Linked DNA regions of Homo sapiens. The protein of the gene in region 1 interacts with the protein of each later gene in a pairwise test. Each region holds a gene or a part of one and is shown on either strand. Other genes may lie near its edges. The genes, in order: RCHY1, KLHL41, JPH3 and HRG.

What was found.
Region 2: the proteins of RCHY1 (region 1) and KLHL41 interact in binary tests that used the Homo sapiens proteins (3 or more experiments, as listed by UniProt).
Region 3: the proteins of RCHY1 (region 1) and JPH3 interact in binary tests that used the Homo sapiens proteins (3 or more experiments, as listed by UniProt).
Region 4: the proteins of RCHY1 (region 1) and HRG interact in binary tests that used the Homo sapiens proteins (3 or more experiments, as listed by UniProt).

What each region holds. Positions count from the first base shown.
Region 1 is NC_000004.12:75,490,401-75,497,425, reverse strand, and holds part of RCHY1 (RING finger and CHY zinc finger domain-containing protein 1), read left to right. Parts: intron 1-3,246; coding exon 3,247-3,325; intron 3,326-5,492; coding exon 5,493-5,537; intron 5,538-5,643; coding exon 5,644-5,702; intron 5,703-5,788; coding exon 5,789-5,815; exon of another isoform or gene 5,816-5,843; intron 5,844-6,724; coding exon 6,725-6,845; intron 6,846-7,025. UniProt on the Homo sapiens protein: E3 ubiquitin-protein ligase that mediates ubiquitination of target proteins, including p53/TP53, TP73, HDAC1 and CDKN1B. Mediates ubiquitination and degradation of p53/TP53; preferentially acts on tetrameric p53/TP53.
Region 2 is NC_000002.12:169,505,377-169,512,709, forward strand, and holds the start of KLHL41 (kelch-like protein 41), read left to right. Parts: upstream 1-4,325; 5' UTR 4,326-4,402; coding exon 4,403-5,512; intron 5,513-7,333. UniProt on the Homo sapiens protein: Involved in skeletal muscle development and differentiation. Regulates proliferation and differentiation of myoblasts and plays a role in myofibril assembly by promoting lateral fusion of adjacent thin fibrils into mature, wide myofibrils.
Region 3 is NC_000016.10:87,598,565-87,605,516, reverse strand, and holds the start of JPH3 (junctophilin-3), read right to left. Parts: upstream 3,010-6,952; 5' UTR 2,371-3,009; coding exon 1,989-2,370; intron 1,429-1,988; coding exon of another isoform or gene 1,358-1,428; exon of another isoform or gene 1,278-1,357; coding exon of another isoform or gene 1,099-1,277; exon of another isoform or gene 889-1,098; intron 1-888. UniProt on the Homo sapiens protein: Junctophilins contribute to the formation of junctional membrane complexes (JMCs) which link the plasma membrane with the endoplasmic or sarcoplasmic reticulum in excitable cells.
Region 4 is NC_000003.12:186,661,915-186,669,021, forward strand, and holds the start of HRG (histidine-rich glycoprotein precursor), read left to right. Parts: upstream 1-4,099; 5' UTR 4,100-4,117; coding exon 4,118-4,300; intron 4,301-7,020; coding exon 7,021-7,107. UniProt on the Homo sapiens protein: Plasma glycoprotein that binds a number of ligands such as heme, heparin, heparan sulfate, thrombospondin, plasminogen, and divalent metal ions. Binds heparin and heparin/glycosaminoglycans in a zinc-dependent manner.

The DNA.
Region 1 (7,025 bases):
AGCTCAGCATTTGCCTTATTTAAACACAGTTTGAACCGAGGACTGCCTGTGATTGGATGAAACTTGGTGATTGATTGGTACTAGAGTAGGTTACTGTAGGTAAACACATCCAGTTAGGTTACAGTTAACTATGTACAGCAAAGCCTTTTAGGACGATCTTAAAATATGTAGGAGGCAGCGTTAGGCTCAACTGAACACATGTATGTTAGGTTGCTTGAAGTTGTCTCACAGCTTACTCATGCTCTGTCGTTTTAAAAAAATTCCCTTTTCTTCCTATTTCATTTCGGATAGTTTCTGTTACTGTGCCTTCAAGTTGACTAACCTTTTTGTTAGCAATATCAAACTTGCCATTAGTTTCATCAGTGTATTTTTAAATCTCAGACATTGTAGTTTTTATGTCTAGAAGTTTGATCTGGGTCTTTAAACATATTTTTCATATTTAATACTTTTTTAATGTAATGGTATACAGTTATAATAACTTTTAATGCCCTGTATTAATTCTAACATCTGTGTCTGTTCTGGGTTGATTGATTGATTATTCTTCTCATTTTAGGTTGTGTTTTTCTGCCTCTTTGTTGCCTGGTTATTGTGGGTTGGATATCAGATGTGATTTTTCTTTTTATCATGTTTAGTGCTGGGTATTTTTGTATTCCTATAAATCTTCTTGAGCTTTATTTTGGGATGCAGTTAAGTTACTTGGAAACAGTTTAGACTTTCTGGGATTTACTTTTCTAATTTGTTAGGTAGATCTACAGAAGGGCTTATCCCAGGGCTATTCTCCACTGTTGAGGCAATATCCTTCTGAATACTCCACCCGGAGCCTGCGAATTATGAGTTTCCCCAGTCTGTTTGATGGGATCAGGCACTGTTCCTAGCCATGTGTGAGTAGTACTGTTCTCATTCTTTAGAAGGTTGTTTCCCTGGCTTTGGGTAGTTTTCTTACATCCATGTGCTGATGGGTATCCTACTAAATATTTCAGAGGTTTCTCTGTGCAGCTCTCTCCTATCTGATGCTCTGTCCTATGAATCTGTCTTGGTTTCTCTAGACTGTCTCAGCTCATCATTTCAATCATGATGTCTTCCTAGCTCACCCTTAGTTCTTCTAACCTGTCCTGGCCTCAAAACTCTCTAGGCAATAAATGAGCAATTTTAGGGCTCACTTACTTTGTTTCTTATCTCTCACAGATCACTCTGTGTTGTTGCCTGATGTTCAGTGAAACTGCTGTTTCATATATTCTGTCTTTTGTCATTATTTTTTCAGATGGGAGGGTAGGTCTGATCTCCGTTATTCTATCTTTGGCAGTAGTGGAAACGTCCCTGCAGAATTTTACTTATGGAGTTTGACAGCCTATTCTAAAGTTCATTTGTAAGAGAAAATTCACAATAGCTGAGTAAATTTTGAAGGAAGGACAACGAAGAGTGGATTGCCGTTCCACATATCAAAACATGATAAAGCTATAGTAATTCAAATAGTTTGCTGTTTGTGCAGGAATAGACGAATAGATAAATATGTGTGTGTGTATATACACAGACAAATATTTATACATATGAATTTATGGCAAAAGTGACATTTCAAATCAGGAAAGGGTAGTATTAAGATAATTGATTATCCATTCGGAAACCAAAAATTGACTCTTCAAACTGTATTCATTAGAGTATGGATTTAGCATCTTGTGACAGAAACCCAAAGTAATGGTGGTTCAAGAAAGGCAGAAGTTCATTTCTCATGGAAATAAATCTGAGTTGTGTAGCTAAACAGGAACTCAGGCTCTTCTTGTTTTTTGCCTTGTCACCCATAAGATATTTTCTTGTCTCTGTAGTCTAAAATGCCTCATATTCTGGTCTGTAGAAAGGCTAGTTAGGTGAAGGGAAGGCATATTTTTCCTCTTGAGGGTACAATGCAGAATTTTCATGTATCTCTTCTGTTCCCAACGTCCAGGTATGTTGGAAAATAGTCTTTATTCAGGACAGTTCTGAATAGCTCAGTGCCTAGCTAAATACCCTATCATTGTAGAAGAAGTGGAGAATAGAAATTTAGGGACAAGTAGCAATCTAACCTTTGCCATATATAGCAAATTTCAAATGGATTAAAGAAAAATATAAAAATGAAAAGCTGTAAGTACTAGAAGTATACATAGGAGAGTCTGTTTATGATCTATAGGTTACAAAAGTTTCCTAAACAAGAGGCAGAAAGCATAAGCTATACAGGAAAATATTGATGACTTTTTACCACATAGTAATTAAAAATGGCTATATGACAAAGTTAAGAGAAATCACAGACCAGAAAAGTAAATATAAAATATGCAAATAAAAAATTGATATTGGTGATATATAAATATAATACATGCGAATGAAAACATTGATATTCATTATATAAATAACTAATATTCATGATATATTTTTTACCAGTAAATTGGTTAAAAACAAATACTTCAGTAGAAAAATGGACAGAACATATGAACAGACAATCCACAGAGAAATCCAAGTAGTTCATTAATGTACAGTCCCTGTCTCATTATTTGTGAAATGCAAATTAAAATGACATCTTTTGTTTGTCTATAATACAAGTAACCATGTTACCCAAAGTGTGGGGAACATGGTTACTCTCATGCAGTGTTGGTGGAAGTATAAATTGGTACTGTCTATTTGGAGGTCAGTTTGGCAGTATCACAATTAATGTTGCAACATCTTCTGACTCAGTAGTTTCACTTCTAGGAATCTCGTAAAAAATAATCAACATGTGAACTAAGTGATGTCTGGACAAGGATGTTTACTGTATCATTGTAGCAACTAAAGATCATAAATTATGATCTTTCTGAGGGAATATTTAAAAAAATTAGTATACATCCATGCCATTAATGTAGCTATTAAGAAGAATGAAGTGGTTCTGTGTAGACAGACATAAAATCCTCAGAATATATCAAGTGAAAAAAAGTTGCAGAATGGCATCTGTAGAAAGAATCCATTAATGTAAGAAATCAAACCCGAAATGTGTGTGTGTGTCTGTGTTTCTCTCTTTTTGCAATTTTATAGAAAAAGAAAAAAAAGCCCTAGAAGGGTAGATACCACTCTGTGTATAGTGCTTACATTTGGAGAGGGATGTTGGGGAGATAGGGATTTATCCCATATTCTCCATTGTGGCTGGAAATTTTTTTTACAGAGACTAAACTTGTGTTTTACATAATGAACAAATCATGACTGTAGTAAAAAATAATCTAATCTTTTGGCTTTCATGTGTTTTGCTAGGATTGGTCCAAAGGAAGATTTTTTCCATTGTTTGAAATGTAACTTATGCCTAGCTATGAATCTTCAAGGAAGACACAAGGTATATAATTTAGTTTGTATAATTTTAAAAATATTACAGTGTTTTTGCAATAAGCTTAACTTCTAATATGTTTTGGAAGCATGCTAATTTTCATGTATTTCCAAGTGCAACTATATTGCTTTTTTGAAAAGCAGTATTAACAAGTAGATATTTTAAAATATGTACCTCAGAATATCTGACCTACAGTTCCTTTTCTTCTCTGTAGTGTAAGAATGCTTATATCACTTACTAGCATAATGTTGGCAACTTCCAAGTTAGTTTATGGATTCTTACCATTGGTACTGCTTTTAAGAATAACTTTAAAACAGGAGAAATACTGAATGGTGTAACCTAATTAGCACAACATTCTAAGAAAATTCAGAAAATATTTTACTATTTCTTTTTATAATTAAGACATACATATTTTAAATCTGGATGTAGGAATTATGTCACAATCCCAGGCCCTTTTTCATTATTTAAAAAAAAATCTAATAAAGTATTACATTATAGTACTGATTCTATCTACTGTAAGAATTTAATTAAGAGAATGGAGGATTGGTGTAAAGTGAAGTGTAAATCGTACTTGTTCAAGTATAGGAAATTCCAGATAAGGCAGAACAGTATAAGTAGCAACATTGTAGCTGTTGAGAGAGAGAGAGACAGATAGACATTAATTGGAAAGAGACTGTTTGAAATCATTTACTTAGCAGTATAGTAGGTTCGATAGAATATAAGAATAAGAAGTTATTGCAGAAATATAATATTAGCTAGAACTTGGCCTAAATAGTAAAGTGGTGAGGAAAATTGAGATGAATAATGAACATATATGATGTGGTAATGGTATTAAGGAAAAAGAATGAGGCAGAGTAAAGATGACTCTGAAGATTTTCAGCCCCAGCTTAAGGTACTTGATTAGTAGATTGTAAATTTTTTGAAGATAAAAGATTGAGTTTGGTTTTTAAACTTGAGTTTGGGGTGATGGCAAGCTATGCTAATGGAGATAGCCAGGAGTCAATAGTATCTTATAGATTACATTTCTATGATGTTCTGGTTTCCAAAGCATGTGTAGTGTGTGTGCACACACTAATTCATTGCATCCTCACCTCAGCATTTACATTCCATCAACTCAGAGATGCCACTGATGATCAGATATGTTGTAATTGTGGGGATGTTAAAATGTATGTGTGAGGTGCACTTTAGAATCAAATGAAATATGTATTAATTTTATTTTATAAATAAGAAACGTTAAGACTAAAGTGGTGGCTAGTCCAAAATCTCAAGGGCTGGTAAATAGCAGAGCTAGGATTACAGTCTAGATTTTTAAACTTACTATTAAGCTTATTATTTTGAGGGTTTTTCTCCCCACTATACTGTCATCTTTCAAAAACTTACATCTATTTTTTTGTTATGGTTTTTTTTGTTATGTTGTTTTTCAGTTATCTTTTATTGTCTATATTACTAAGTGGTCCTGCCATCTATTAAGTGCTTCCGTTAAAAACCTGGGAGTCTTCCATGGCACAGTGCTTTCCCTTACCTCCTTGGATTTAATCAGACATTACATCTTGTCAAATTAAGAACTCTGGCTCTGAAGTTAGCCTGCTGGAGCTCCAGTTTAATTCTGCCTCTTATTAATGTGTGACTTTGGAAGTTCCTTAGCTTCTCTAGGCCTCCACTGCTTTAACTGTAAAATGGTATAACAATCATAGCCTATTTCATCTAGGATTGTGAGATTTAATTGATCTTATACAGGTACTGTGCTGAACATGGCATGTAGTAAATTTCAATAATATGAACTATTATTACCAATATTATTAGTAAGTTGAGCTTACTAATTTAGGTCACTGGCTTTGGAGTAAAACATACATAATATGCAAAGGTTCCAAATCTTATTATCTTTGGATCTTGGGTAAGTGTCTTGAATTCCTAAGTCACTTTCCTTATTTGTGAAATGAAGGTAATCTCAATAATGTTTATTGACATTTTCATTGTATCAGATAATATGCCAAGCCTGAAATAGTGTGAGATTTAAATAACTATTAAAAAACTCTTCTTACATATAAAAAGCATATATTAATGTTAGCTATTATTTTTAGTAAGTTGGTTTTGTTAATTTTTATTATTAATATTTTTATACCTGACATTTTAATCTAGTTAAGCTTTTGTTAATGTGAATTTCTCTTTTAAACAGTGTATTGAAAATGTGTCCCGACAGAATTGTCCAATATGTTTGGAGGTAGGCTTAAAATATTTTTTACTTTGGAAGTCTCAGCTCTTGAATTTAAAATACTTGGATGTTTATATTGTCTTCATACAAGCACTAACATTTATTTCATTTACAGGACATTCACACATCCCGTGTTGTTGCTCATGTCTTGCCATGTGGACATCTTTTACATAGGTAAAGTAACATCTTTTTCTCAATGATGTTTGAAAATAGTGGAGACAGTTTTTGTTTTACTAAAATAATCTTATATTTTCTTTCAGAACGTGTTATGAAGAAATGTTGAAAGAGTGAGTGTTTGGGATTTTAAAAATAATTGTAAGATGTTTGACTTTTTTGTGTGTGTGGTGTGGGGAGGTGGACAAACATTGTTACTTATACTATATTGGGCATGGCAATATTTATATTGAAATGGGTAGGGTAGATGAATATTGTTAAAACAGGACAAAGTGTCTTGGATATAGAACTACACTTTTGCCATATGTTTCTCTTAAATCTTGTCTCCTCCCACAATTTGAGGTAGTTACCTCTTTTTTTTCTGGCCATATATACCAGGAAGTGCAGTTTTTGCCAGATGCAGTTATAGTGTTGTAAAAATGCTGAAAAATATTGCCAAAAATTTGTTAGGTTGTTATATTGGCCAAGTATAGTAAACTAAAAGAAAGTAGGTGAAGTGATCATTAAAGCTAAGACTTTATTAATGGAAAAGATATTAAAATTAGATGAAAATAATTGAAAAGAGAAGACTGTATTTTGGTCCTACATATTGATGAGCAAAAATGTGAAGAGCTAGAGAGAGCATTCTTTTTTTCAAATTTTTAGAAAGGAAATAATATCTGAATAATTTTAAACAAATACAGTCTCTTTACATGAGTGTATTAAGAAATTAAGGTTGTTTAGATAAGGAGTAGCTTAATTAGTTTATAAAAATATATGAAGTGTATTCTACAAAGAATATGGACTAATTCCTCTCCATTTTAGAGTACTGAGGAAAAAGACTTAGTTTTAAATAAGTATACAGGAATTAATTTAAAAGTTTTATAGTGTGAAAGTTCCCAGGTTCCTAAGAGATTATCTTGAAATGGAGGAAAATGCCTGTTTTGAATGGTTCATGTGGCAGTTAGCCTGCATCTTCTTGTATACCTGAATTAATATATTCTTGTTTAATATTTGGAAAATAACCTTTCTATCTCTTTCAGAGGCTACAGATGTCCATTATGTATGCACTCTGCTTTAGATATGACCAGGTATTGGAGACAGCTGGATGATGAAGTAGCACAGACTCCTATGCCATCAGAATATCAGAACATGACTGTGGATGTGAGTAGAATCAATACTTAAAACTTTGTAGACTCCTTGTTGGCACTCTTATTTTTGCCCTCCTGCTTGAATTTGCCAAAAAAAAAATATATATATACTGGTTTGACACAGATGCTAATGTGATGATTAATGGAAAGCACAAAATGATTTTTAAATTTTAGTTAAGTAGCTCAGATCGGG
Region 2 (7,333 bases), on another chromosome or scaffold:
CCCGTCTGGGAAGTGAGGAGCGTCTCTGCCTGGCTGCCCATTGTCTGGGACGTGAGCAGCCCCTCTGCCTGGCTGCCCAGTCTGGAAAGTGAGGAGCGTCTCTGCCCGGCCGCCATCCCATCTAGGAAGTGAGGAGCGCCTCTTCCCACCCGCCATCCCATCTAGGAAGTGAGGAGCTTCTCTGCCTGGCCGCCCATCGTCTGAGATGTGGGGAGCACCTCTGCCCGGCCGCGACCCCATTTGGGAGGTGAGGAGCAACTCTGCCCAGCCGCCCCGTCTGAGAAGTGAGGAGACCCTCCGCCTGGCAACCGCCCCGTCTGATAAGTAAGGAGCCCCTCTGCCCAGCAGCCGCCCCGTCTGAGAAGTGAGGAGCCCCTCTGCCCAGCAGCCACCCTGTCTGGGAAGTGAGGAGCGTCTCCGCCCGGCAGCCACCCAGTCCGGGAGGGAGGTGGGGGGGTCAGTCCCCCGTCCGGCCAGCCGCCCCGTCCGGGAGGTGAGGGGCGCCTCTGCCCAGCTGCCCCTACTGGGAAGTGAGGAGCCCCTCTGCCCCGCCAGCCACCCCGTCCGGGAGGGAGGTGGGGGGGTCAGCCCCCCGCCCGGCCAGCCGCCCCGTCCGGGAGGGAGGTGGGGGATCAGCCCCCCGCCCGGCTAGCCGCCCCGTCCGGGAGGCGAGGGGCGCCTCTGCCCGGCTGCCCCTACTGGGAAGTGAGGAGCCCCTCTGCCCGGCCAGCCGCCCCGTCCAGGAGGGAGGTGGGGGGGTCAGCCCCCCGCCCGGCCAGCCGCCCGGTCCGGGAGGGAGGTGGGGGGGTCAGCCCCCCGCCCGGCCAGCCGCCCCGTCCGGGAGGTTAGGGGCGCCTCTGCCCGGCCGCCCCTACTGGGAAGTGAGGAGCCCCTCTGCCCGGCCACCACCCCGTCTGGGAGGTGTACCCAACAGCTCATTGAGAGCGGGCGATGATGACAGTGGCGGCTTTGTGGAGTGGAGGTGGGGGGAAGGTGGGGAAAAGATTGAGAAATCGGATGGTTGCCGTGTCTGTGTAGAAAGAAGTAGACATGGGAGACTTTTCATTTTGTTCTGTACTAAGAAAAATTCTTACCCTAAAACTTAAAGTATAATAAAAAAAAAAAAACTTCAGTTTTCTAAAAATTATATTTAAAATTGTAATCAAAATGTACCTAGTTTATAAATGTTTATTTTGTACTTAATACCTGTAAAGTCTTAGTTTTCAGACATTAAGTGACTGTATCATGTTCGGTTTAATAAAGAATTTATGCAGCACCATTTAACGTTTTGAAAGTATTATTTAAAAGAAAAAGACTATTCTTACGGAATAATCAAAATTCTGCTTTCTTAATTGTAAAAATCTGGTTTAAATATCCCATGGCTCCTGGCCAGGCATGGTGGCTCGTGCCTATAATCTCAACACTTTGGGAGGCCGAGGCAGGCAGATCACTTGAGGTCAGAAGTTTGAGACTAGCCTGGCCAACATGGTGAGACCCGTCTCTACTAAAAATATAAAAATTAGCTGGGCGTGTGGTGGGCACCTGTAGTCCCAGCTACCTGGGAGGGGCACGAGAATCACTTGGACCTGGGAGGTGGAGGCTGCAGTGAGCCAAGGATCGCACCACTGCACTCCAGCTTGGGCAACAGAGCAAGACTCCATCTCAATAAATAAATAAATAAATAATCACATAGCTCCAAATGTAAACCAACTCTAATACAAATTGTAATCCTTAAACCTGTCATTTTTGTAAAAACTAAAAATTACAACTAACTCTGGAATACATCAACCCCCCCCTTTAAAGTGCTTTGGATGCTATTTTGTAAGAATTTCAATGTAGTTTTGGCAAGAATACATTTACTTTGTAAGAAAATAGCTTTGTTTATTAACTTTCTCTTTGTATTTATTGAAACTTCTTTGAATTTTCAAAAATAGGATATTATTTTTCTCATTTCTTGGTTAGGTAAGACTTGTTGACCTCTCTAGGATCATTCGGTGTTTTTGACCACTGTTTCCGTGTAAAACACATTGTAAGGAATCTTTTTCAAATAATTGAAATTAGCCAAAGGAGCCCTCTTCTTCCAGAGGGAAAAGTATGTAAAAACATTTAAAATAAGATGCAAGTCTGTGTACAACCATAGACATACAGTACAACCAAGTGCTAACCTAAGTTTATTAAAAATCAACAAAAGCTACAAATTGGCTTCTTCATTTAAATGGAAAAGGATTTCTACATTTTAAGGGTTGGAATTATAATAAACCACCTTTAAGACGAGGGGAAAGAATGTATGAAAAATTTGTACTGGTCACAGATAAAATGCTGCCATAACTATTGTTTAAATATTGTTTTTTTCAAGCAAAAGAGACTATAAAATTGCTGACTAGTAAGGAATAATCTCAAATGTCATATGATGTTTGCATCTGACTCATTAATCTTTTCAAATGTTAGATGTTACATGTAGAGAGAAATGAGTCATTTATTGTTTAAACAAGGAAGCAGCTGTTAGTTTTTTCTGGTGTGTTAAAACCTTTAGTGGCATCTATAAATGGAAAAAGAGTCAATGAGCTCTTCTTTCAGCTGTTGTTTTAGCAGCTGACAGTACCATTGACTTCACTGTGATGTAAAATAAAAGAAAAGGCCTTTACTCATGGATAGAGACCTTGAAGTTTAAAAATACATAATTCCTTGATCTGGGGCATTCATTCATTCAACAAATACTTATAAAGCACTCACGAAACCCCTACGCTATAGCATTTGAAAAGAACAGACACTCCCACAATCCCTGTCTTCATGGAATTTGTTTTTGGGGGTATGTGTAAAAATACCAACTTTTGAAATTACAGTATTTCTACAGCCCTACTTGAGTTCAGATAATGTGACAATATGACTGTGTAATAAAGTATTTAATGGGCCCAGTGCGGTGGCTCACACGTGTAATCCCAGCAATTTGGGAGGCCGAGGCAGGCGGATCGCGAGGTCAGCAGTTCGAGACCAGCCTGGCCAACATGATGAAACCCTGTCTCTACTAAAAATACAAAAATTAGCCAGGCATGGTGGCGGGTGCCTGTAATCCCAGCTACTCGGGAGGCTGAGGCAAGAGAATTGCTTGAACCCGGGAGGCAGAAGTTGCAGTGAGCCGAGACTGCGCCATTGTACTCCAGCCTGGGTGACAGAGCGAGACTCTGTCTCAAAAATAAATAAATAAATGAAAGTATTTAATGAAGTATATTATACCATCTATATATAAACAAAGGACCGATTTTCTTTCAAATCATTACTTCTACCTCCATAATTAATATGGTATTCTATTATAATCAACAGCCTACGTTATGTCCCCAGTTATATACTCTTTAAAAAAAGGGGGGGCTGTTCTCTATGACCATTGTAGGAGTTCATCTTGATTTTGCTGTGTTTAGTGATAACATTGTTCTCATGGGGTTATATCTGTTCTATTTTTCACGTTTTATTTAATGAATGATAATTTTTGATATTTAAAATTACAGATTATCTTTTGTGATCTTATTTGAATGTGTGTGGACTTTTTCGTTCCCTAGATTGACTTTTAATTATTTTTTCTGGCTCTGTGATTCCTTTTAACCTTTTGCTTTTATTTTACCTTATTATCGTTTGCCACATTAGATCATTTGTATGACAAGGCAGGATATGAATAAATAATTTTATAATTTAATTCAATATTAATTACAGTTTTTCCATGTAAGAATAATTTGGAATGTTTTAGAAAATTAGCAATTCCTCTGCATTTCTTTTTTCAATTATCATGGCAACATTAAAGGTTTTGTAAAACTAGTACAGAAGTAAACATCTTTAAGTTTACTACTTCTAAAAGAAATATCTATATCCCACTGTTCTGAGTAGAAAGTAAAAATTTGTATGTTAACAATTATTGGAAATGAGATCTTGCTTATGAGTATTCAAATGAACACATCTCATATTCTTGACCTTTGCATCATTAATTCAGAGAGCCAAGTAGCTTGACACTAGAACATATTTAGAGGAGTGACTCATTTTTATGATTCATTTTTCTGTTAATTCAATAAACATTTTCTTGTAGTAGCCTTTATTAGTATATCTTCTAATGTGTTATGTATTTTTAAGCTTTCAACTTCACTTAAATGTCTTGTTTCTTAGCTGTTTCCCTAGTGATTAAAAGTTCCAGTTGTTACTTTCAATCTATAACAGCTGCAAGAACAACTCTTCTTTCCAAGCCAGCTCTCCTAAATTCCCGTTGTTAGAGTTGGTATCTATATTTAGCTAGTGGGATTAAATTGCAAAGGCTTCAAGCTGGGCAAAGCACACTGATCTGCCTTTTTACAGCTAGACCTGTGTGCTGCAAGGAGCTAAGGCCTTCAGTGTCCCCTTCCTTACCCAGGTTTCTCACAGAATGGATTCCCAGCGGGAACTTGCAGAGGAACTGCGGCTTTACCAATCCACCCTTCTTCAGGATGGTCTAAAAGATCTCCTGGATGAGAAAAAATTCATCGATTGCACCCTAAAAGCAGGTGACAAAAGTCTTCCTTGCCACAGATTGATTTTGTCAGCTTGTAGTCCTTACTTCCGTGAGTACTTTTTATCTGAAATTGATGAGGCGAAAAAAAAGGAGGTAGTGCTAGACAATGTGGATCCTGCTATACTTGATTTAATCATCAAATACCTGTACTCTGCCAGTATTGATCTCAATGACGGAAATGTGCAAGATATTTTTGCATTGGCCAGCCGCTTTCAGATCCCCTCAGTGTTTACTGTCTGCGTTTCTTATCTTCAGAAAAGACTTGCTCCTGGTAACTGTCTAGCCATCCTAAGATTAGGACTTCTTCTTGACTGCCCGAGACTCGCCATTTCTGCCCGTGAATTTGTGTCTGATCGCTTTGTACAGATTTGTAAGGAAGAGGACTTTATGCAACTGTCTCCACAGGAACTGATCTCAGTCATTTCAAATGACAGCCTAAATGTAGAAAAAGAAGAAGCAGTATTTGAGGCAGTGATGAAATGGGTGCGAACAGACAAGGAAAACAGGGTTAAAAACCTTAGTGAAGTGTTTGATTGTATCCGTTTTCGCCTTATGACAGAAAAATATTTTAAGGATCATGTTGAGAAAGATGATATAATTAAAAGCAACCCAGACCTCCAGAAAAAAATCAAAGTTCTAAAAGATGCTTTCGCAGGCAAACTCCCAGAACCTAGCAAAAATGCCGCGAAGACTGGGGCTGGTGAGGTGAATGGTGATGTTGGTGATGAAGATTTACTTCCTGGTTACCTGAATGACATTCCCAGGCATGGAATGTTTGTAAAAGACCTCATCCTCTTGGTTAATGACACAGCAGCAGTGGCTTATGACCCCACGGAAAATGAATGCTACCTTACTGCACTGGCTGAGCAGATTCCCAGAAATCATTCCAGCATTGTTACCCAGCAAAATCAGATATATGTGGTAGGAGGACTATATGTGGATGAAGAAAATAAGGATCAACCTCTACAGTCATACTTCTTCCAGGTAAGAAGGACTTTTTGTATATGTAGTTGCTTAAAGGGAAGGCTGTTACTCACCATCCAGTTAGCCAATTTGTGAATTATTCAAGCTGCTTGCATTTTACTCTAATTGATGTCCTATTCCAGTCCCTTGCACTTTTGCTGTATAGAGCGTTGACAGAAAAATATTTGACTGCTTTGTTAATGTGTAATAAAAAGTTTGGTGAATAATGAGGTTCTAATTCATGTTTAATGACTTAAGATGTTCTTTATACTATTTTACCAAAAATGCCTTGTTTATAGATGATCGTGACTGTAATCCCTCAAAGCCCAGTATTTTAGTAAAAACTAAATTTATTTTTTCTTAGCAGAGATGGGCTCTCACTATGTTGCCCCGGCTGGTCTCGAACTCCTGGGCTCAAGCAATACTCCCAGTTTGGCTTCCCAAAGTGCTGGGATTACCGGTGTGAGCCACCACCCCCTGCTGTAAAAACTAAATTTAATCTTGTATACTCTTACCTATTAAAAATAGTTAATGTCTTTCCCCAAATAGTTTCCCTAAATCAAAGTTCTTATCCATTATAAAGAAGTAATAATTGGTCAGATTTTCTTTTTTAATTTCTTTTTCTTCTTCATCTGCTGGCAGCTCTAAATTGGTCAGATTTTCTACCTTCTTCCAAGTTTCCCTGAACTTCATTTGAAGTTCTTGGAGGTAGCACTTCATCTCTTATTTATGGTTACTGCCTAAAATATAATTTTGTTGAAAATGAAAAAAACTTGTATATATATTCCACACACTTTGGATTATCTTCTAGGAAAAACTGTCTACACAAAAGTCGCTAATTTGAATTAATTATAGTTAGAAATTTTTATTATATCACATTTATTTGGATCAGAGATACATTTAGACATTATTAGAACTTAACAATCTGTTTTGTGAAACCACAGAATTTTCCAAGAAAATTAATTCTCCTAAACCAATATACCCTTAGTTGTTTGAAAGGAATTTGTCTTATATTATCAATGTGTTATACTTTATCAGTTTATGAAGGAGTTGGCTTAACCTTTGTCTTCCATAATGCCAATACCGAAACTTTATAGCTTACAACTGGCTCAAAAGAGTTTGTTTAGGTCATAGCTAATCATGGCTGGGGCTTATGGGCACTTTAGTTGGAAAGGCCAAAGATAAGCAAGTATACAATGTCATACCACAGTCACAGTATGCTCTCAAAGTGTGTGATATACTTTGCATTCACAAAATACTATTATACCTTTAATCAACTTTTTCTAATCTTGAAAAATGTAGTTGTGATAATACATATTAATCATGTTTCTTAATTTTCAAAGTTCCAGTGAAGAATGTTATAAGTATTTGAATGTGGGTCAGAAAATTTCCCAAGCCCTAATTTTAAAGTCAAATAAACGTCAAAAGTGGCAAAGTCAATGAAAAAGGCTATAAATACATCCAGGAAGTAAGAATGTTATAAAAACACAGATAGACAGATGACAGACATATAGGTAGATACCTACAAATGACAGATCCACGGAATAGTTGTTGCCATGGAATGATTCTCCAAAATTACTGGAGTTTTAAATTTCATTTCATATTTAATTTATTGAATATATCTATAACACGGTCCTTTTTACTTTCAAGTGTTCAGTTTAATCTTTGTCCTCTTCCAGCCTAATAAAACCCTTACTTTTACTGACGCAGCTTCTCATTTTTGGTTCAAGAAACCTACTTAATGTTCTGTATAACAGAACATTAACAATAACAGTTATACAAAGTTGGAAGGTCAGCAAAGCAAATGCCTTGCTGCTTTTAAAAGGCACTAATAGAACGGTA
Region 3 (6,952 bases), on another chromosome or scaffold:
CAACATAATCGCCGCTCCTTCTCCCTCAAATGTAAGCTCCGTGAGGGCAAAGATCTGTGTCTGCTTTGCTCAGTGTGGTTTTTCCAAAGCCTAGGACACCTGGCTGTCTGCTTTGCTCAGTGTGGTTTTCCCAGAGCCTGGCACACCTGGCTCATAGCAAACATTCCATCAGTATTTGTTGAATGAAAGAAATGATTCCTCAGGACTCTGGAGATGTCTGAGGAGCGTGGGCAGAGTGGGGTGCTCAGCCTCACCCCCAGATATTCTGAGGAGTTTCAGAGACAACGAAAGCCCTGGCTCCTCTCGTCCCCATGCCCTGCGTGAGCCCGGCCTGCACAGTCCTCCTGGAGCAGGCTCAGCCAGGAGCACCTCTGGAGGACAGGTCTGCAGAGCCTCCTGGCCAGAGCCTGGGGGTGATAGCAGCCCCTGGGCTCCAAACAGCCCAGCTGGAAGCGCCAGGCTGCCTGCCTGTCTCAGCCACCCACATCTGCTGCCCGGGCCTCCCTGTGCCTGCACGCGCGCGCACACACACACACAGGCCCACAGCCTGGAACCAAGGGAGCACCGTCTGCTCCCGCCCGGCCCTCAGCGCCCCAGGGTCAGGGAAGCTCTCCAACCTGCTCCATGAAAACAACAACGGCACAGAAAAGGCCGCCTGAGACCGGGGCTGGGCACGGCTTTGACAGGCAGGAGCATTATATAATTAACTGCCCCAGACTCCTCCTCCTCTTCGGGTAATAACGAACCCTGCTTTTCAGTTGCATAAGCCAAAATAATAATTACTCTCCAGCCCCCTGCCACTCCTGGATGTGGCCGTGGAGCAGGTGTTCCGAGCTTTCTTCATGAGACTCGGAGGCAGCGAGCGGGCGGGGAGGACTAGAGCACACGTACGCTCAGGATTTTTATTCTCGGCAGAAGCACAAGTCATTGCTGCGTCTCACTCCCTTCCCAGGCATCCATGCCTGAAACAGGCGAGCCGCCCGAGGGAGGCAGAGGACCCAGTGCCTCTGAGGATAAGCTCCCACATGGGAGTGGACTGGTCGGGGAAGCCAGTTTGTTTGGGGTCTGGCTTCCAGGAAAGGACCGGCTCCATGCGTGTCAGGTGCACTGAGGAGTGGATATCGGAGAGTCCAGGCAGGCGGGCAGCTGCAGAGCCGGCCAAGGTTCCCTGCACAGAAACCATCTTACAGCAGCAGCAGCAGCAGCAGCAGCAGCAGCAGCAGCAGCAGGCAGCTCCCTGGCTTCCGGCCCCGGCTCTGCCCCGAATGCGGTGGCATCTTAGAATGAAGGCACAGATCGATTCCCTCAACTAATGGTGAAAACGATGCAGCCACTGAAAGACGAGATTCCTGGGCTCTCACTGAGCAGATGGGCCTCCCTCCTCCCTCCAGCAGCCTGCTTCGACAGCGCTAGTCCGCGTCCAACCACCTAGAAGTGTACTGCCTGGCTGTTTTGGTTCGGGTTGGCATCCCCCGCCCCTAGCGCTCCCCATCACTCCCTTTCTCTCGGCTTGGGCAGATTCGGGGCTGAGGAAGGCCCTCGGGCGCCGCAGGAACACCAGAAGCGAAGCTGGGGCCTGATCGAAGGGCGGCCTCCAGGGTGGGGGGCAAAGCCAACAAGGGGAGGGGCCCTTCTCCCAGCCCCCTCTGCCCTTGCTGGGTTCCCCAGGGCCGCGGGCCCAGCCTGGCCCTTCCCGCAGGTCTCCGGCCTGCTGTGTCCGACGCACGGAGGCTCTGCTGGGCCCCGCCTGGCTCTGCCCCTGGAAAGCCCCCAACACCCTTCAGCTGGCACAGGGGCACTGTCCCCACCAGGCAGCGGGGCAACCTGTAGCCAGGAGCCGCCGTGGCTTCCAGGGAAGCCCGGGAAAGGCCCCTGGTGCCCACGGCCCAACCGGAGGACGCAGCTCAACTTCCCCAGAGATCCACAGAAGGGGCGCGATCGGAAGCACGTCCCTCCCGCCCCGGCCCGGCCCGGCCCGCGGCACCTACCTCCGTCCGAGTAGGTCTCGGTCCCGTAGCCGTCCTGCAGCCCGTTGCTCCAGGTCCCTTCGTATTTGGCCCCGTTGCCCGCGCACTCCCGCACCCCGTAGCGCCCCTTGAATCCGTGCGTCCACTCGCCCTTGTACACCCACTTCCCCTTGCTCTCCAGGCCGATGCCGTGGCGCTTGCCCTGCGCCCAGGTGCCCTGGTACGTGTTGCCGCTGGGCCAGGTGTAGACGCCCAGCACCTCGAAGCCGTGGCTCCACGAGCCGGTGTATTCGCCTTGGCCCTTGGGGCCGGTGCAGACGCCATGGCCGTGCGCCTTGCCGTCCTCCCAGCCTCCACAGTAGGACCCTCCGTCGTCAAAATTAAACCTGCCCCCACTGGACATGCATGTAACTCGGTTCCAGATCCCGCAAACGGTGAAAACGGACTCAGGCGATCGACACAGCAGAGTCGCGGCCGCCGGCGGCCCTGGGTCGCGAGCGTTTTCCGGAGGAGAGGAGGACGCGGCCCCGGAGCGCGGTCTCGGGCGCGGGCGGCCGCGGCGCCGGCTCCGGAGGAATTTCAGTCAATCGGGGGCGATTATTCCTTTTCGAGCTGCGCCGCGGAGCCTGACCAGCGTCTCGCGCTCCCGCTGGAGACAGGACCGGAGGGGAGGGGGAGGGGAGGAGGGAGGGAGGGGGCAGGAGCGGCGGCGGCGGGGCCCGCGGCTCCACCTCAGCGGCGAGAGGGCCCCTCGCCGGCAGCCCCGCGGGGAGGGCGCCGCGCCGAGGCCGGGCGGGGGGCAGCTCAGGCCCGGGCCGCGGCCCCCCACCTGCGGCTGCCGCGCTGCGGGCGCCCGAGGGCGGCGGCGGGGCCCGCGGGCGGCGGCGGCGGCACGGGCGGCGGCGCTGGCGGCTGCACCATATTGGGGGCCGCGGGCCGGGCGCGGGGCGGCGGCGGCAGCAGCAGCAGCAATGCGGCGGCTCGGGCGGCGGCGGCGGCGGTGGCGGCGGCGGCGTGCGCTCCGGGCCCGGCTCGCGCGCTCGGGCCGCGCGGCGCGCGCCCGCACCCCGCCCGCCCGCGCGCCCCCGCCCGCCCCCCGCCCCCCGCCCCCCGCCCCCGCCCCCGCCCCCGCCCCCGGAGCGCGGCGGTCCCAAGAGGGGCGCGGCCCAGCAGGCTAGGGCGCGGCGCGCGGGCGGGGACCCCGGGCGCCCCGCCCTCCGCGCCCCCAGCCCCGCGCTCCCCGCCCTGGGCTTCCCCGGGGCCCCCGCCGGACTGGAAACCGGGGTCCAGCCGGGGCGCCCCCGCCCCCTCCGGGAGTGGGATTTAAAGGCACAGGAACTGCGTCATGGGAAGGCGCGCAGCACTCAGGGCGCCCTCGGCCCCCTCCCGGGAGCTGGGCGGTGAGGCCTGCAGAGCAGGACCTGCCAGCTGAGCGCCCCTACCCTCGCCCCTGCCCGCCCCCGCGCCTCGCCCCTCCCGCCGGGCTCGGATCTGCCCCGCCTGCCCCTGACTCGACTGAGGCCCTTTGCAAACCACAGGTGGTTTTCTCCGGTGACAAACAATGCTTCCTTCTTCCTTCCGGGCAGCTTGGGTCCAAGAGTGGGGGGAGGGGGGCTTACCCCAGAAAACAGGGATTTGGCGAGTCCCTCTCCCCTATAAATTGAGTGAGAGTCGGGACACACGCGTGTATCTTGGAGCAAAGTCACCCGAATTCCGTGCGCCCTGCGCCCTGGCCAACAGGTAGCGCCCCCCCACTCGGGGAACGGTCGCGCTTTTGGGGAGCAAAGTGGGACCGCCATTCGGGCGTTTCTAGGTCTCTCTCCAGACATACTCTCACCCTCCGCCCCTCTTCCCACGCACAAGAGAGAGTCTGATTCTTGGATCCGAGCATCCTGGGATCCATTTAAAATGCATTTCCTGGACCATAAATCCTCAGGCAGAAGCCGGCGTCCCCAGCCCTCCTGAAATGCGTGCGGGAAATGGCAGCAGACCGGTGCAGTGGGCTGATGGGGGTGTGGAGGCTGCCCAGGGTCCTCGCTCCTGGGAGTGTGGGCCGGTGACCGCAGCGCGGTGAGCCAGAAACTGCAAGCCAGGCCTGGAGCCTGAGATTAGGACAGGAGAAGAGGTGCGATTCGGAGCCTCCAATCAGCCAGGAGCCCTGCTCAGATCTTCCCCTGTCCGAGAGAATCAGGATGGTCCCCACTCTTGGCTCACGGGGCTCTCAGAAAAATCAGCCCCTCCTGGGAGTCCCAGAGTTCAACCTCAGTCTCTTGCCTTGGGCACCAAAGCTCCCTCCCCAGAGTACCAGCAGCCAGGAGGACAGTCACCTCCTCATACACCCACTGTCAATGAGGAACATTTAGGGCGGTCGGCTTTGTTTTGTTTTGTGCAGTTACAGTGATTCATTGAGCTTTCTAGCGCTGTCTCCCTGTGCCCCTCTACAGAAGTTCTCTAAATGTCTGCGGTGGCATCATTGGACCAGCTACGTCTTGGACTTTATTGGAAGCTGCCAAATTGCTTTCCAAACACCTGGAGCAACTGACCTCTCACCCTTCAGTGTGCCTGGGTTTGTGGTTCTCTATTTCCTGGCCAGCACTGGTGTCCTCAAACTTCTGATTTTCTTTCCATTTATTTTACTTTGTTCATCTAAATGGGTATGAAATAATATCTCTGGGCTGTTTCATGTCCATGGAAATTTCTCTGTTGTAAATGTGTGGGCCAAAGGAACTGCACCTTGTCCTCAAGAGATTCGGGTCGAAACCTTGGCTCCGGGGCCCACCAGCAGTATGGCTTTGGGCAGTCACCTAATGTCCCTGAGCTCAGTTTTCTCATCTGTAAAATGGAGATGGCAGAGTTCCCATAGGGTTACCGTGGGAATTCAAAAGCTAGGCGCCCAGCACTCAGTAAGCGCTCGGGAAGTGGGAAGTAATGTTATTGGAAGCCAGCCCCCCAGGGAGGGTCATGGATTCCTGCATGGAGACACCCAGCCCTCTGCCTGTTGAAATAAACATTGCCACCACTCGTATGTTCTACTTTTCATTTCTTCCATTTTATTTCCAACCATTTTGCTGCTGAATCAGCAGCCCTCCTTCACACAAGCAGTGGATTGCAACTGAGATCCTATTGAAACACGGTGGTTGCTTCCAAGCAGTTACTGGTCAGCACCTTCCACCTTTGGCCAGTGTACACTCCGCTCCCTTGCAGTTCCAAGACCCCCACCTCCAACTGACCCTCTCTCATCTCCTGCAGTCAGTTACTCCAGCGGTGACAGGCTCTAGTCTCTGAAATGCAGATATTACAGGCATTTGTTCTGTGCAATTTGGAAATCACCGCCCTCCCGATAAAGTAGGGCTGGCAGTATTGATTTCACTTTGGAGGAAACTCTCCAAGCCTATAAACGTAGTACCACCCAGCCGTTTAAAAACAAAAACCAGGGAGAAGGGTAAAAAAGCTGTAACCCACATGTGAGCCAGGCACTAGGATGAAGACAGCACATTAGTCATCTCATGGACTCAGGTGATTTGGAATTACACTCTCCTTTTTAAAAGAATCACTTTTCCCCACCAACGTAAAGTGCCTTGCCAGAGGGAAAATAATGACTGGGCAGGATTCGAGCCCAAGTCTGCCTGGCCTTCCAGCCTGCACCCTTTCTGGCCTCCAGGCATGGGTCCTTGCTGTCTCTTTTGCCTGGTGCCTCTTCCCATGACAGTAGAGCTTTCTGGTCTCAGCTCCAGAGAGGCTTCCTGACTAGTGCAGAAAGAAAGCTCCCCCTGCATCCCCACAAAAGCCTATTAATCTCCTTCAAAGAACTGAGCCACGATCAACTTATCTGTGCTTGCCTTCTTGTCTTTGCCTGTGTTTACCATAACACTGTGAAATGTCCACAAGATCCCCCATTCCACGTGATCTTCTTCCAGTGTGGTGTTGACACCCCTCCTGTTGAGGGAGTGCTTTGGGGGAGCAAAGTGGGACTGCCATTTGGGCGTTTCTAGGTCTCTGTTGAGAGGTGGGCTCTGCATTCCCTTCCCCTGAATCTGGGCCAGTGTGTGATTATCACAGAAGTGACAGGATGTGACTTCAAAGGTCAGTTCATAAACAGCAACACAGCTTCTGCCTCATGCTCTTGGGGTGCTCAAGCTTGGAACCAAGTTGCCATGATGTAAGGAAGCTCAAGCAGCCCCTGGACGTGCCAACAAGGAGAGATACAGGGTCCTCCAACCCACAGCTCCAGCCAGACTCCCAGCCAGCAGCCAGCAGCATTTGACAGCCATAAAAGTGTACCATCTTGAAAGTAGACCCTCCAGACCCCAGGCAGGTCACCCCAGCTAAAGCCACATGCAGCTGAGACAAGCGTTCCCCATCACATCTTGTCAGAATTTCAATTTTCTGAAAAAAAAAAAAAAAAAAAAGAAGATTGTTGTTTTAAGCCAGGCATCACACAAACCATAACCCAGAGGCCAAATCTAGTCCACTGCCTATTTTCATAAACAGAATTTCACTGAAGCACAACCATGGCCATTCATTTGTGTGTCTAGAGTGGCTTTTACACTGCAACATAAGAGTGGAGTCGTTGTGACAGACACCATATAGCCTACAAAGCCTAAAATATTTACCATCTTGTTCTTTACAGAAAACGTTTACCACTTTTTGCTCACGGGGCTCTCAGGAAAATCAGCCCCTCCTGGGAGTCCCAGAGTTCAACCTCAATCTCTTGGCTTGAGCACCAAAGCCGCCTCCCCAGAGTACCAGCAGCCAGGAGGACAGTCACCTCCTCATACACCCACTGTCAATGAGGGACATTTAGGGCGGTTGGCTTTGTTTTGTTTTCTGCAGTTACAGTGATGCAGTGAGCTTTCTAGCACTGTCTGCCTGTGTATTAGTCTTCAAGGGCCGTCATAACAAAATACCGCAGACTGGGTGACTTCAACAACAGAAATGTCTTATTGTTTTTGAGGCTAAAAGTCCAAGATCAAGTTTCTGGCTGA
Region 4 (7,107 bases), on another chromosome or scaffold:
GTATCTCTCTGATCCACCTGACATTCACCCCATTTCCCCATATTTTCTCCTTTCCTGTTCCTCACCCTGATCACGCTTGATTTATTGATGGCAGTTCCACCAGGCCTAATCGCCACACACCAGCAAAGGCAGGCTATGCTATGGTACAAGCCACTAGCCCGCCTCTTAGAACCTCTCATTTCCTTTCCATCGTGGAAATGTATCCTCAAGGAAATAACTTCTCAGTGTTCCATCTGCTATTCTACTACTCCTCAGGGATTATTCAGGCCCCCTCCCTTCCCTACACATCAAGCTCAGAGATTTGCCCCCACCCAGGACTGGCAAATTAGCTTTACTCAACATGCCCCGAGTCAGATAACTAAAATACCTCTTGGTCTAGGTAGACACTTTCACTGGATAGGTAGAGGCCTTTCCCACAGGGTCTAAGAAGGCCAACACAGTCATTTCTTCCCTTCTGTCAGACACAATTACTCGGTTTGGCCTTCCCACCTCTATACAGTCCGATAGCAGACCGGCCTTTATTAGTCAAATCAGCCAAGCAGTTTTTCAGGCTCTTAGTATTCAATGAAACCTTTATATCCCTTACAGTCCTCAGTCTTCAGGAAAAGTAGAATGGACTAATTGTCTTTTAAAACCTCAGCCACCAACTTAAAAAGGGCTAGAAAAACTTTTACCTCTTTCTTTTCTCAGAAGTCAGGCCTGTCCTCAGAATGCTACAAGGTACAGCCCATTTGAGCTCCTGTATAGAGGCTCCTTTTTATTAAGCCCCAGTCTCATTCCAGACACCAGACCAACTTAGACTGTGCCCCAAAAAACTTGTCATCCCTACTATCTTCTCTCTAGTCATACTCCTATTCACTGTTCTCAACTACTCATACATGTCCTGCTCTTGTTTACACTGCCAGTTTACACTGTTTCTCCAAGCCATCACAGCTGATATCTCCTGGTGGTATCCCCAAACTGCCATTCTTGAAGTAAATAAATAATCTTTGCTGGCAGGACTACGCTGAATCTCCTTAGGCACTCTAATTAGATGTCCTAGGTCTTCCCAATTCTTAGACCTTTAATACCTGTTTTTCTCCTTCTCTTATTCCATTTAGTTTCTCAGTTCATACAAAACCATATCCAGGCAATCATCAATAATTCTAAATGACAAATGTTTCCTCTAACAGTCCCACAATATCACCCCTTACCACAAAATCTTCCTTCAGCTTAATCTCTCCCACTCTAGGTTCCCACGCCGCCCCTAATCCCACTCGAAGCAGCCCTGAGAAACATCGCCCATTATCTCTCCATACCATCCCCCAAAATTTTTGCCATCCCAACACTTTACCACTATTTCATTTTATTTTTCTTATTAATATAAGAAGACAGGAATGTCAGGCCTCTGAGCCCAAGCTAAGCCATCATATCCCCTGTGACCTGCACATGCACATCCAGATGGCCGGTTCCTGCCTTAACTGATGACATTCCACTACAAAAGAAATGAAAATGGCCTGTTCCTGCCTTAACTGATGGCATTATCTTGTGAAATTCTTTCTCCTGGCTCATCCTGGCTTAAAAGCTCCCCTACTGAGCACCTTGTGACCCCTACTCCTGCCTGCCAGAGAACAACCCCCCTTTTTCCTTTACCTACCCAAATCCGATAAAACGTCCCCACCCCATCTCCCTTCTCTGACTGTCTTTTTGGACTCAGCCCGCCGGCACCCAGGTGATTAAAAGCTTTATTGCTCACACAAAGCCTGTTTGGTGGTCTCTTCACACGGACGCGCATGAAAGATACCATCTGTGTAAAGTCAGCACTTCCATCTGAGGCCACTCTCTAGTTCCCATAATGCTAATAGGAACCATCCCCAAAGCCAAATATCACTTACTGGATCAGAGTTCTCAGGACAGAATGTCTCTCTTACTACCATTCAGCTTCCTCCCAACCATTACCATCCCAGCACCCTTAATGTGCTCTCTCCCCTGAAGCTGCTCCAGTTGCTAGAATGGCATCATTAGTACTGTATCACTCTTTAAGATTCAGTAAAGCAACAGGAAGAGGATGCATGACTCCCTGAGGTACTCTGTAGTCTCAGCAGAACAGCACTGTAGGAAAATTATATTCCTGTTCTTGATGCCTCTTCCCATCCCCTCAACATTCCCATTCCTTTCCCTACACCAGCATTTGGTTCACCCAGGACACCCCATTTAGGGTGCAGCCAATATAGCCATAATAGAAAAACTTCATTAAGGAGCTCAACTCATAATAACAAAAACTCAAAATAGTTTTTGTTTTAATCAATAGCTTTCCCCTTCCCCACTGGGTTGGAGCCTCTTAACACCTTGACCAGATTCCATACATTCCTGTCATTTTCTGTTGCACTGGACTGGTCCCATTGGGTATTTAAAAGCCAGGGTTACTGACATTAAAAGTTCAATTGCAAACATTATTCAAAACCTGTTGCACTCATTAACCCTGTGACTTGTGGAAATGAGATCTACTTTTCATACACCTCCCTTTTCTTTCTGTCTTCAAATCCTTTCCCTCTCTTCAGTTCACTCTAGAATCCCAGTAATTCTCAACCTTGACTGCACACACTGGATTACCTAGGAGTTTAAAAACTACCAATACCAAAGTCCACTCCCAGAGATTCTGATTAAATTGTCCTGGAGGAGTCCTTGACATCAGGACTTTTTAAAGCTCCTGGGGTGATTCTAACATGAAGCCGAGTCTGAGAGACATGACTGCAGACTCTCACAGACACTCACTGCGGATAGAACAGGGAGGAATGGAGATGCTGCCTAACTGGCTGTTTCTTGGCAGTGAGGACGGAACCTAGGCTGATTCCCTCTGGTCCCTTCTGATGCTGCTGGCTCTGCTGGTCTGAGGGTTGCATATAGGTATACGGGTTTCTTCTGAAGTGTGAAGGTAGGGGGTCAGCTGTATCATAGCCCAGTCCCCCCCTGCTGATCCCTTCTAACAGTGGGATGGGCATCCAACTATTTGACTCTTACTCTCACCACCATCCTCTTCCACGTGAATCAATTCTTTTTGCAGGGAATTGGGGTGGCATGAGGTGTCCCCAACTTCTTTGCAGGCACACTAATAATAAATAGCATCACTTATTCAGCATCTACTCTATGCCAAGAATTATACTGGTTGCTTTCTTTTTTTCTTTCTTTCTTTTTTAGATGGAATCTCACACTGTCGCCCGAGCTGGAGTGCAGTGGCGCGATCTCAGCTCACTGCAATCTCCGCCTCCCGGGTTCAAGTGATTCTCCTGCCTCAGCCTCCCAAGTAGCGGCGATTACAGGCATGTGCCACCATGCCCAGCTAATTTTTTGTATTTTTAGTAGAGACAGGGTTTCACCATGTTGGCCAGGCTGGTCTCAATCTCCTGACCTTGTGATCAGCCTGCCTTGGCCTCCCAAAGTGCTGGGATTACAGGCATGAGCCACCGCACCCAGCCTGATTTCTTATTTAATTATCACACAAGCCTGCCAAGAGGTATCAATCCATATTTCGTAAATGAGGGAACTATCAGAGAAGTTTTGTTGCTTACCCAGCATTACACAGTAAGAAAGTAATAGAGCCAGGTGAGAAATTCAGATTTGACTTCAAAACGACAGCCTCTTCATTGTTCTATTTTACCTGAAGTCATTCCTTTTATAATGGTACCTGTTTAACATGTTCCCCCGCTTAGATAATGCAGCTGCCTTCTACTGAGGAGTTTTAGTGCCATGATCCATCAGTCCACTGACTGATGATGGAGATTTCCAGCTGAGACAGGCAGGCAGATGGAGGAAAATTACCCCTAGCCCCACCCCCTACACCAACATAGGCACTGCTTATATTCAAAGACGTACTTTAGATCTGCTATCTACTAGAAAAATCCAGATTTGTGCAGATCACAGTTCCACCCACTCATCAGCATTTCTCAGCTTTCTGCCCCCAGGACCCACTAATCATTTACAGCTTGTTGATGGTTATTTGAACCCAGGGTCAAGGTGAACACCCTCAGTTACACAACAAAAATGTATCAAGGTTTTGTTTAATCAATTGCGTGTGTTTCAGAAAGTCTGTATAAAATTCTCTGCAGTGGCAGATCATAGCAAGGGATGGTTTAACAAAATGAAGGCACTCATTGCAGCACTGCTTTTGATCACATTGCAGTATTCGTGTGCCGTGAGTCCCACTGACTGCAGTGCTGTTGAGCCGGAGGCTGAGAAAGCTCTAGACCTGATCAATAAAAGGCGACGGGATGGCTACCTTTTCCAATTGCTGCGGATTGCTGATGCCCACTTGGACAGAGTGGTGAGGAATTGCCAATGGCAGAGCTGAGTTGGGAGATTACTCACGGGGGCAAATGTGACTCTACCCCCTAGGCTTACTGCTTTGCACAATGAATGGCTTTGGTCAGAGTTTTTTGTTTGGCTTCTGCGGCTGCTCTAAATTGTTCTTTTTTCCTTCAAACTAATATTTGTTATTAGTGTACCCGCAACTATGATTCGATTTGTGGGTACATATAAGCATTTATGCTGAGCCCAGTTACATGCTAAGGACTGCCAGAGAAACATTAGAATAAGCTATGGGCCTTGGCCTCCAGGAAATAATAATACACTGGCACATACAGGCAAACAGTGTAAGTTACTAGGATAAACTAGAGAGAAGGAAAAGTTTTCTCAACCCTCCTAAGGCTCCTAACTGAGCCTGAAATAAAACTGGTAGACAAGGCCAGGCGCGGTGGCTCACGCCTGTAATCCCAGCACTTTGGGAGGCCAAGGCGGACGGATCATGAGGTCAGGAGTTCAAGACCAGCCTGGCCAACATGGTGAAACCCTGTCTCTACTAAAAATACAAAAACTAGCTGGGCATGGTGGTGCACGCCTGTAATCCCAGCTACTCAGGGGGTTGAGGCAGAAGAATCGCTTGAACTCGGGAGGCAGAGGTTGCAGTGAGTCGAGATCATGCCACTGCACTCCAGCCTGGGCAACAAAGCTAGACTCCATCTCAAAAAAAAAAAAGAAGAAGAAGAAAACATACAAATTTATTTAATCCAAGGTTTACCTGACACTGGAGTCTTCATAAATGAAGACTCAGATATCCAAAGAAACTGGCCACTTGCATACTTAGAATTCACAAAGGCTGTGCAGAATGCAGAAGTGTGATGGGACAAAAGGCTGTAATCTAAGAGTCATAGACTGAAAGAAGGACCCAGCAAGGCCTCTCTGTTTGAGTTCTTCATGGCCTCTCTGTGTGGCATTTCTTGCTCCCAAGTATGGGACAGGATCCCTTTGGAATGCGGATCTGAGGACCTACTATCAAACAGAGTAGGTCAGAGAATGTCTTTATGGCCAGCTCCTACAAAGAAAGACACAGGGGGAAGGTTAGATTCATATTTTAGGATTTATGGATGCTTTCGGGGAGAGGGATTCTACCATCTGTGACTGTCCTGGAGAAGAGAAATTTTAGTTTCTATGGCTTGCCTTGGGGGAGAAAGCAGAGTAGGAGAACAAAGGGCAGAAGGTCAGACAGATCTGGCTTCTGAGGCCCTTCCCATTTTCTTCAGTTCAAAGGACTCAGCACGCCAAAAGTACCATACTTTGAGATACCATGTTCTGAGCCCCAACAATAGCCAAGTGACCAAAGGAGTGGTAAATGTACTGGAGCAATTTAATGAGGGGAGATCTAGTAAGACTGGATGGGAGGAGGCTTCTGCTGTGTAATGATGCATGGGTAGGATTTGAACAGGTCTGGGTAAATGTGTTCCTGGTGAATTCCTGGCACCACCACTTCTAGGTGGGTATGGAATCAGGAAGAAGGGTGTTAGGGAGCCATTGAATATAAGCAGGTGGGTTCCAGAAGTTCCATGTGGGCTCTGGAGCAGGCATCAGGTAGGAGCCAAGCCTGTGGGCTTGTCTTGAGGTGAAACAAGCTTACTGTCTTCGCTTAGATTACACGCCTACCTAAACTGGACTAGAGGAGCCGATAGACATTATAGAGAGACATGAAGCCTGCCTCTAAGCTCCCCAAATAACCTACTCTCCCTCTGATGGAAAAACTGAAATTAGGGAGGCCAGACAAGGAGTACTACAGAGGACAATTTACCCTTCTGAAAGTATCACAGAGGGAGGCACTGTGGGTTGCAGAGAACAGGTGTGCAGGAGTTTAGGATTCAACCAGTAATTCAGTGACCATTAGTCCCATGCCAGGCTCATCAACACATGTTAGGGCATAGGATGCATCAGCACAGAGCTGCCTCTGAGAGCTAGCATAGAGAGCGGGTGGATGGGGAGGGGTCCTGATGTGCCTGGGGAAACTGAGGCAAGAGACAGGGACATGAAGTAGAAAGCTATTTATGTATTCAGGAATGAAAGAACAAGGGTCAGACCTGGGTTAGTGGGAGTCAGGGCAATGAGACTGAGGAATAGACATGAGAGACGTTGCCAAGAAAGACCATTCAGGGCCTGGTACTGGATAGCAAAAGCAAGGACAAGGAAAACATCTCGTAGGTTTACATGTTTTACCCCAGAGTCTAAGGCAATATGTTGTTAGTGGTGCCACTGACAAAGACGAGGGAAGTGGAGAGGGCAGCTAGTTTGTAAGAGAAGAGAGAGGATTTAGCTTTGGGCAAAGCAACATCAAAGCAGAAAATCCCATGATCAGTAATAGAGCTGGGCAAGAGGACACAACTACAAGGACAGATTGGAGGCCCTGATGAGGTCGTCATGACTTATACTTCCAGGCATGCGTAGGTGATGATGCCTCCGCTAAACCACCACTGCCGTTTAGTGATAGCTTCTTCAAGTTTATGGGCAGAAGACAAATCAGGACCACTTAAAAAGATTTGGAAATAACTCATTGAAGCTATGTATTGGAATCAATAGATCAAATGACGCAAAGGTAGAGCATCTGCAAAGACAGTGAGAGGAACAGGAATTCTGTTTAAGTAATAAATATATAGCTTTAATACATAAAAAAAAACCCGCTAGGTTTCCATGTGCTACTCACATGTTGCTTTTGGCATTCCTCAGGAAAATACAACTGTATATTACTTAGTCTTAGATGTGCAAGAATCGGACTGTTCGGTCCTATCCAGGAAATACTGGAATGACTGTGAG